2 separate regions of the Homo sapiens genome follow, and region 2 is linked to region 1. Evidence: fine-mapped expression QTL. A gene starts in region 1. The other region holds a variant in brackets. All regions are shown on one strand. Distances are from middle to middle. Region 1 holds the start of LINC00639 (long intergenic non-protein coding RNA 639). Region 2 overlaps LINC00639 (long intergenic non-protein coding RNA 639).

The links. PIP is the estimated chance that this variant, and not a neighbour inherited with it, causes the effect.
Region 2: its variant is the best candidate, but not a certain one, in a credible set for the expression of LINC00639 in whole blood (TOPMed, PIP 0.57).

What each region holds. Positions count from the first base shown.
Region 1 is chr14:38,914,603-38,919,005 of GRCh38, reverse strand. It overlaps LINC00639 (long intergenic non-protein coding RNA 639), which reads left to right and starts at 2,124. Exons shown (of 5, transcript NR_039982.1): 1 at 2,124-2,224. LOC105370457 (a long non-coding RNA gene) reads right to left here. Exons shown (of 5, transcript NR_135256.1): 5 at 1-8.
Region 2 is chr14:38,856,736-38,861,138 of GRCh38, reverse strand. All of the region lies in intron 2 of LINC00639 (long intergenic non-protein coding RNA 639), which reads left to right. Among named protein-coding and RNA genes, the nearest start is that of LINC00639, 58 kb to the left of the region's middle. The variant C/T (reference allele first, on the strand shown) is at 2,506.

The DNA.
Region 1 (4,403 bases):
ATCTCCAGCTGGAAATTCCATAAAAGAAATAAATAATAGTATCACCCTTGGGTGCACTACTGAAAATACAATATCTGGTTTTGTGAGTGCCAGTCCATTCTGCTCAGACACTGGTACCATACTATTGTTTCAGAGGTATCATAGTACCGTCACAGTACTGTCTCAGACAAAATGGGATACTTCAGAGAAAAGCAGCCAAGAGAACTAAAGTCCTATCAGTTAAGGAAGAGTAGAAGAAATCTGGAGTGTTCAGCCTGGAAAAGATTTAGGGGATCGTGGTGGCAGATTTAGAATAGTTGAGCAATGAGACTTGCTCTCTCTCCTTGGGTGGAAACTGGATAAATGGACAGAAGTTACAAAGAAGCAGATTCTGGTTATTAAGGTTCAATGTAAAGAAAAGCTAAATTAGCACTATAATGCAAATAGCTTTACGTATTCCTTCCACAAGGCCACATCAGTTGTATTGTGGGTTGTGTGTGTTCGTGTGTGTGTGTGTATTTAACACTTATTCTAAAAAGCCAATGTATTTAGGGGTTCTGAGGAATTTATAGATCTAGTAAACTGTGGGCCTTTTAATGCATAATTTGTGAACTAATCAATTTTCTCATTTTAATACAACCTCCCTCCCTCCCTCTTTTCCTTCCTTCCTTTCTTCCTTCCTTCCTTCCTCCTTTTCCTCTGTTCCTTTCTTTTCTTTTCTTTTTTTTTGTTATACTTTAAGTTCTAGGGTACATGTGCACAATGTGCAGGTTTGTTACATATGTATACATGTGCCATGTTGGTGTGCTGCACTGGTTAACTTGTCATTTACATTATACTACAGGGCTACAGTAACCAAAACAGCATAGTACTGGCATAAAAACAGACACATAGACTAATGAAACACAATAGAGAACCCAGAAACAAACTCATACATCTACAGTAAACTTGTTTTCAACAAAGGTACCGAGAATATATGTTGGAGAAAAGGCAGTCTCTTCAATAAGTGGGGCTTGGAAAACTGGATATCCATAGGCAGAAGAATGAAACTAGACCCCTATCTCTTGCCATATACAAAAGTCAAATTAAAATTGATTAAAGACTTAAATCTAAGACCACAAGCCATGAAATTACTAAAAGAAAATAGCCTACCTCAGCTTCCCACATGCTAGGATTATAAGCATGAGCCACTGTGCCCAGTGATACAACATTTATGACTGCAAAGTAACTCATCTCCCCTTTGCAGTTAACAGCACTTTGTGGGGAGATAATTTGAGACCATGTTGGTTGTCATCAAACCTTCACTCAGATTCAGCATCATTTGATGCTTTCTTCTTCAATCAACTACTACTATAATAGTTGCCAAATAATGACCTTCCAATTCTACCTTTCCTTCTGCATACAGTAATTAGCATTCTTATGTAAGGAATAATTATTTGTTTGTTTATGTAATTTGAACTCATGAATTCCTAGTTTATTTAATGGGCTATAATCTGCTATTATCATTTGTTTATTTTTTAAAAGTTTTATTTTAAGTCCAGGGGTATAAATGCAGGTTTGTTACATAGGTAAACTTGTGTCATGGGAGTTTGTTGTACAGATTTTGTCACCCAGATCTTAAGCCTAATACCCATTAGTTATTTAATTATTAGTTATTTTTCCTGATTGTCTTCCTTCTCCCACCCTCCAGCCTCTGAAAGGCCCCAGTGTGTGTTGTTCCTCTCTGTGTGTCCATGTGTTCTCATCATTTAGCTCCCACTTATAAATGAGAACAGGCAGTATTTGGTTTTCTGTTCCTGTATTAGTTTGCTAAGGATAGTGGCCTCCAGTTCCATCTGTGTTCTTGCAAAGGACATATCTCTTTCTTTTTTATTACTGCATAGTATTCCATGGTGTATATTGATCACATTTTCTTCATCCAGTCTACTGTTGGTGGACATATAGGTTGATTCCATGTGATATGGTTTGTCTCTGTGCCTCCACCCAAATCTCATCTTATAGCTCCTATAATTCCCATGTATTGTGGGAGGGACCCAGTGGGAGATAATCAAATCATGGGGGTGGGTATTTCCCATACTGTTCTCATGATAGTGATGGGTCTTACGAGATTTGACAGTTTTAAAAACAGGAATTTTCCTGAACAGGGTCATTTTTTTTTTTTTGCCTGCTGCCATCCATGTAAGATGTGATTTGCTGCTCCTTGCCTTCTGCCATAATTGTGAAGCCTCCCCAGCTATGTGGAACTGTAAGTCCAATAAACCTCTTTCTTTTGTAAATTGCCCAGTCTTGTGTATGTCTTTATCAGCAGCAAGAAAATGGACTAATAGAGTAAATTGGTAGCAGTAGAGTGGTGTGCTGCTGAAAAGATACCTGAAAATGTGGAAGTGACTTTGGAACTCGGTAACAGGCAGAGGCTGGAATGGTTTGGAGGGCTCAGAAAAAGACAGGAAAATGTGGGAAGGTTTGGAACTTCTTAGAGACTTGTTGAATGGCTTTGACCAAAAGCCTGATAGCAATATGGACAATAAGGTCTTGGCCGAGGCTGTTTCAGATAGAGATGAGGAACTTGTTGGGAACTGGAACAAAGGTGACTCTTGTTATGTTTTGGCAAAGAGACTGGTGGTATTTTGCCCCTGCCCAAGAAATCTGTGGAACTTTGAACTTGAGAGAGATGATTTAGGGTATCTGACTGAAGAAATTTCTAAGCAGCAAAGCATTCAAGAGGTGACTTGTGTGCTGTTAAAGGCATTCAGTTTTATAAGGGAAGCAGAGCATAAAAATTCGGGAAATTTGCAACCTGATAATTTGATAGAAAAAGAAAACCGGTTTCCTGAGGAGAAATTGAAGCTGGCTGTAGAAATTTGCATAAGTAATGAGGAGCCAAATGTTAATCCCCAAGACAATGGGAAAAATGTCTCCAAGGCATATCAGAGGTCTTCATGGCGGCCCCTCCCATTACAGGCCCAGAGGCCTAGGAGAAAATGCTCTCGTGGGCCAGCCCCATGGTCCCTGTGCTGTGTGCAGTCTAGGGACTTGGTGCCCTGTGTCCCAGCCACTCCAGCCCTGACTAAAAGGGGCCATGGTACAGCTTGGGCTGTTGCTTCAAAGGGTGGAAGCACCAAGCCTTGGTAGCTTCCATGTGGTCTTGAGCCTGTGGGTGCCCAGAAGTCAAGAACTGAGGTTTGAGACCCCCTGCCTAGACTTCAGAAGATGTATGGAAATGGTACCAGCTCTTCTTTTTCTTTCTTCTTCTTCTTCTTCTTTTTTTTTTTTTTTGAGACAGTGTCTCACTTTGTCAACCAGTCTGGTCACAAACTCCTGCCTGGCCCCCCCAAGTAGTTGAGACTATAGGCATACACAACCATGCTCTACTAATTTTTTGTATTATTTGTAGAGATGGGGTTTTGCCATGTTGCCCAGGATGGTCACAAACTCCTGAGCTCAAGTGATCTGTCCACCTTGGTTTCCCAAAATGCTGGGATTACAGGTGTGGGCCACTGTGTCTAGCCTTTGTATCAGCTCTTCTTTGTACATCTGCTAGAATTCAGCTGTGAACTTGTCTGGACCTGGGCTTTTTTTGATTGGTAGGCTATTTATTACCACCTCAATTTCAGAACTTGTTATTGGTCTACTCAGGGATTCAATTTCTTCTTGGTTCAGTCTTGGGAGGGTATGTGTGTCCGGGAATTTATCCCTTTTTTCTAGGAAGGGTGTGTGTGTCCATGAATTTATTCATTTCTTCTATATTTTCAAGTTTATGTGCATAGAGGTGTCCATAATATTCTCTGATGGTTGTTTGTATTTCTGTGAGTTCAGTGGTAATATCCTCTTTGTCATTTCTGACTGTGTTTATTTGAATCTTCTCTCTTTTCTTCTTTATTAGTTTAACTAGTGGTCTATCTATTTTATTAATTTTTTCCAAAAACTAGCTCCTGGATTCATTGATCTTTTGAATAGTTTTTCATGTCTCTATCTCCTTCAGTTCAGCTCTGATTCTGGTTATTGCTTCTCTTCTGCTGGCTTTGGGATTTGCTTGGCCTTGGTTCTCTAGTTCTTTTAGTGGTGATGTTAGGTTGTTAACTTGAGATCTTTCTAACTTTTTGATGTGGGCATTTAGCACTATAAATTTCCCTCTTAATACTGCCTTAGCTGTGTCCCAGATATTCTGGTACATTGTATCTTTGTTCTTGTTAGTTTCAAAGAACTTCTTGATTTCTGCCTTCATTTCATTGTTTACCCAGAAGTCCTTCAGGAGCAGGTTGTTCAATTTCCATGTAGCTGTGTGGTTTTCAGTGAATTAATTTCTTTCTTTCTTTTCTTTTTTTTGAGATGGAGTCTTGCTCTGTCATGCAGCTTAAAGTACAATGGCTTAATCTCAGCTCACTGCAACATCCTCCTCCTGGGTTCAAGCAGTTCTGTCTGCC
Region 2 (4,403 bases), 58 kb after region 1:
GTCACCAAACAGTCCAAAGTCAATTTTAATGAAAAAATCTTAAAGGCAGCTGAGAAAAAGATCAAATTACATACAAAATGAACCCCATCAGGCTAATAGGACTTCCCAACAATACTTAAATAGGCAGAAGAGATATGTTGTGTCTTTGTTTTTATTTATTTCAAATAATTAAAAAAAATTTTTTTAATAGTGCTGAATACCTAACTCAAGAAGTTAGGAAGACCTCAAATTAATGATCTAATACCACATCTACAGGAACTAGGAAAACAAGAACAAACTAACCTCAAAGCTAGCAGAAGAAAATAAATAACTAAAATCAGAGAGGAACTGAATGAAATTGAGAACCCAAAACCCATTAAAAAATCAATAAAACCAAAAGGATAGAGCGCTAGCTGGATTAACAAGAAAGAAAAAAAAAAAGAGAGAAAGAGAAGATTCAAATAAACACAACCAGAAGCAACAAAGGTGACATTACAACTGATCCCATGGAAATACAAAAGATCCTCAGACACTATTATGAACACCTCTATTCACACAAACTAGGAAATCTAGAGGAAGTACACAAATAAATTCCTGGAAACACACAATCTCCTAAGATTGAATCAAGAAGAAATTGAAATACTGAACAGACCAATATTGTATTCTGAAATTGAATTGGTAATAAAAAAAACTACCAAATCGAAAAGGCCCTGGACCAAATAGATTCATAGCTGAATTCTATCACATATTGAAATAATTAGTTCTAATCCTAATGAAACTATACCAAAAAAATCAAGAAGGAGGGATTCCTTCCTAACTCATTCTGTGGAGCCAGCATCATCACCCTAATATGAAATCTGGCAAAGACACAATGAAGAAAGAAAACTAAAGGCCAATATTCCTGATAAACATGGACACAAAAATCCTCAACAAAATACTAGCGAACTGAATTCAACAGCATGTCAAAAAAGTTAATTCACGATGATTAAGCTGGCTTCTTTCTTATGATGCAAAGTCGGTTCAACATATGCAAATCAATAAATGTGATGAATCACATAAATGGAATTAAAAACACAAACCATATGATCCTCTGAATAGACATGGAAAAGCTTTTGATAAAATCCAATATCTCTTCATTAAAAAAAAACCCTCAAGAAATTAGATGGTGAAGGAACATACCTCAAAATGACAAGATCCATCTGTGATAAATCCACAGCCAACATCATACTGAATGGGCAAAACCTGGAAGCATTCCCTTTGAGGACTAGAACAAGGCAAGGATGCCCACTTTCGTCACTCCGATTCAACATAGTACTGGATGTGCTAGCCAGAGCAATCAGACGAGAAAGAAAGAAAACGCACCCAAGCAGGAAAAGAAAAAGTCAAACAATTTTTCGTAGACTATACCTAGAAAACCGTAGTCTCCACCAAAAGGCTCCTGGAACTAATAAACAACTTCAGTAAAGTTTCAGGATACAAAGTCAATGTACAAAAATTAGCAGTATTTCTAAAAATCAATAATGTTCAAGCTGAGAACCAAATCAAGAATGCAATCTTATTAACAATAGCCATACACAGAAAAAAATACCTAGGAATACATCTAATAAAGGGGATGAAAGATCTCTACAAAGAATACGACAAAGCACTGCTAAAAGACATCATAGATAACACAAACAAATGAAAAAACATTCTATGCTTATGGATTGGAAGAATCAATATTGTTAAAATGCCATACTGCCTAAAGCAATCTACAGATTCAATGCTCTTTCTATAAAACTACCAATGCCATTTTTCACAGAACTAGGAAAAAACTATTGTAAAATTCATAGGGAACCAAGAAAGAGTCCAAATAGCAAAAGCAAGCCTAAGCAAAAAGAACAAAGCTGGAGGCATCATATTACCTGACTTCAAATTATGCTATAAGGCTACAGCTACCAAAACTGCATGATACTGGTACAAAAATAGACACATAGACTAATGGAACAAAATAGAGAACTCAGAAATAAAGCTGTGCAGTTATAGCCATGTCATCTTTGACAAAGTGAACAAAAATAAACAATGGAAAAAGGACTCCCTATTCAATAAGTGGTGCTGGGATAACTGGCTACCGATATGCAGAAAAATGAAACTGGACCCCTACATTTCACCATAAACAAAAATTAACTCGAGATGGATTAAATATTTAAATGTAAGACTTCAAACTCTAAGAATTCTAGAAGAAAACCTAGGAGACACCATTCTGGACATTGGTGTTGGGAAAGAATTTATGAAGAAGTCCTTGAGCAACTGCAACAAAAATGAAAATTGATAAGTGAGACCGAATTAAACTAAAGAACTTCTGCACAGCAAAATAAACTGTCAACAGAGTAAACAGACAACAGGAGAAAATATTCGCAAACTGTGCATCCAACAAAGATCTAATATCCAGAATCTATAAGGAATTTAAACAATTGAGCAAGCAAAAGCAAATAACCCCATTAAAAATGGGCAAAAGACATCAACAGACACTTCTCAAAAGAGGACATA[C/T]AAGTGGCCAACATATGAAACATATGAAGAAATGCTTGTCATCATTAATTATCAGAGAAATGCAAATCAGAACCACCATGAGAACCATCTCACACCAGTCAGAATGGCTATTAATAAAAAGTAGAAAACAAGATGCTGGCGAGGATCTGGAGAAAAGGCAACATTTATACACTATTGGTGGGAATGTAAATTAATTTGGCCACCGTGGAAAGCAGTTTGGAGATTTCTCAAAGAACTTAAAAGAGAACTACCATTTGACTGAGCAATCCCATTACTGGGTATACATCCAAAAGAAAACACACATTTTTCTTTTTTTGTTTTGCCTTTTTTTTTTTTTTTTTTTGAGTCAGAATCCCACTCTGTCACCCAAGCTGGAGTGCAGTGGCATGATCTCGGCTCACTGCAAGCTCCGTCTCCCGGGTTCAAGTGATTCTCCTGTCTCAGCCTCCCAAGTAGCTGGGACTACAGGCGCCTGCCACCACGCCCGGCTAATTTTTTGTATTTTTAGTGGAGACGGGGTTTCACGGTGTTAGCCAGGATGGTCTCAATCTCCTGACCTTGTGATCCACCCACCTTGGCCTCCCAAAGTGCTGGGATTACAGGCGTGAGCCACTGTGCCCGGCCGCCTTTGTTTGTTTTTTTTTAATTATACTTTAAGTTCTGGGATACATGTGCAGAACATGCAGGTTTGCTACATAGGTATACACGTGCCATCGTGGTTTGCTGCACGCATCAACCCGTCATCTACATTAGGTATTTCTCCTAATGCTATCCCTCCCCTAGCCCCCCAACCCCCACGGTGTGTGATATTCCCCTCCCTGTGCCCATGTGTTCTCATTGTTCAACTCCCACTTATGAATGAGAACATGCCGTGTTTGGCTTTCTGTTCCTGAAAACACACATTTTTCTACCAAAAAGACACATATACTTGTGTATTCATTGCAGCACTAGTCACAATAGCAAAGACACAGAATCAACCTAGGTGCCCATTAATAACAGATTGGATAAAGAAAATGTGTTACATATATGCCATGGAATACTATGCAGTCATAAGAAGAATGAAATCATGTCCTTTGCAGTAACATGAATGCAGCTGGAGGCCATTATCTTAAGCAAATTATTAACACAGGAACAGAAAATAAAAAACCTCATGTCCTCACTTACAAGTGAGAGCTAAACATTGAGTGCTCATGGACATAAAGTTGAGAACAATAGAAACTGTGGACTATTAGAATGAGAAGAGAGGGGGAGCCAAGGGTTGAAAAGCTAACTATTGGGTACTATACTCAGTACCTAGGTGATGGAATCATTTATAGCCCAAACTTCAGCATCACACACTATACCCAGGTAACAAACCTGCACATGTACCCCCTGAAATTAAAATAATAGTTGAAAAAAAAAATAAAGCAACCATGAGATACCACTTACCATCTATCAGGTTGGCAAATACTAGAGTAACAATGGCCAATGAAAGAATATGTGCTCTTGCACATATTTATTGCAGCACTATTTACAAGAGCAAAGACTTGGAAACAACCCAAATGCCCATCAATGGTAGACTGAGTAAAGAAAATGTGACACATATACACCATGGAATACTATGCAGCCATGAAAAAGAATGAGATCATATCCTTTATAGGGATGGATGACACTTAGATGTCAAAGAAGGGTAGTTCTAATTCCATCTATTAATTTGATAATATACTGGTACCTATTGACAGCCAAAAGTAGGATAATGCTTAACTCTAGAGGGGATGGGAGTGGAACTTTTATCAGAATGGGGCATGTTGTGGCTTCTGGGGTGCTGACAATATTCTATTTCTTGACTGGGGTGGTTTGTTATTGCTAAAATATATCATGCTTAGCAAACTAACACAGGAACAGAAAACCAAATACCA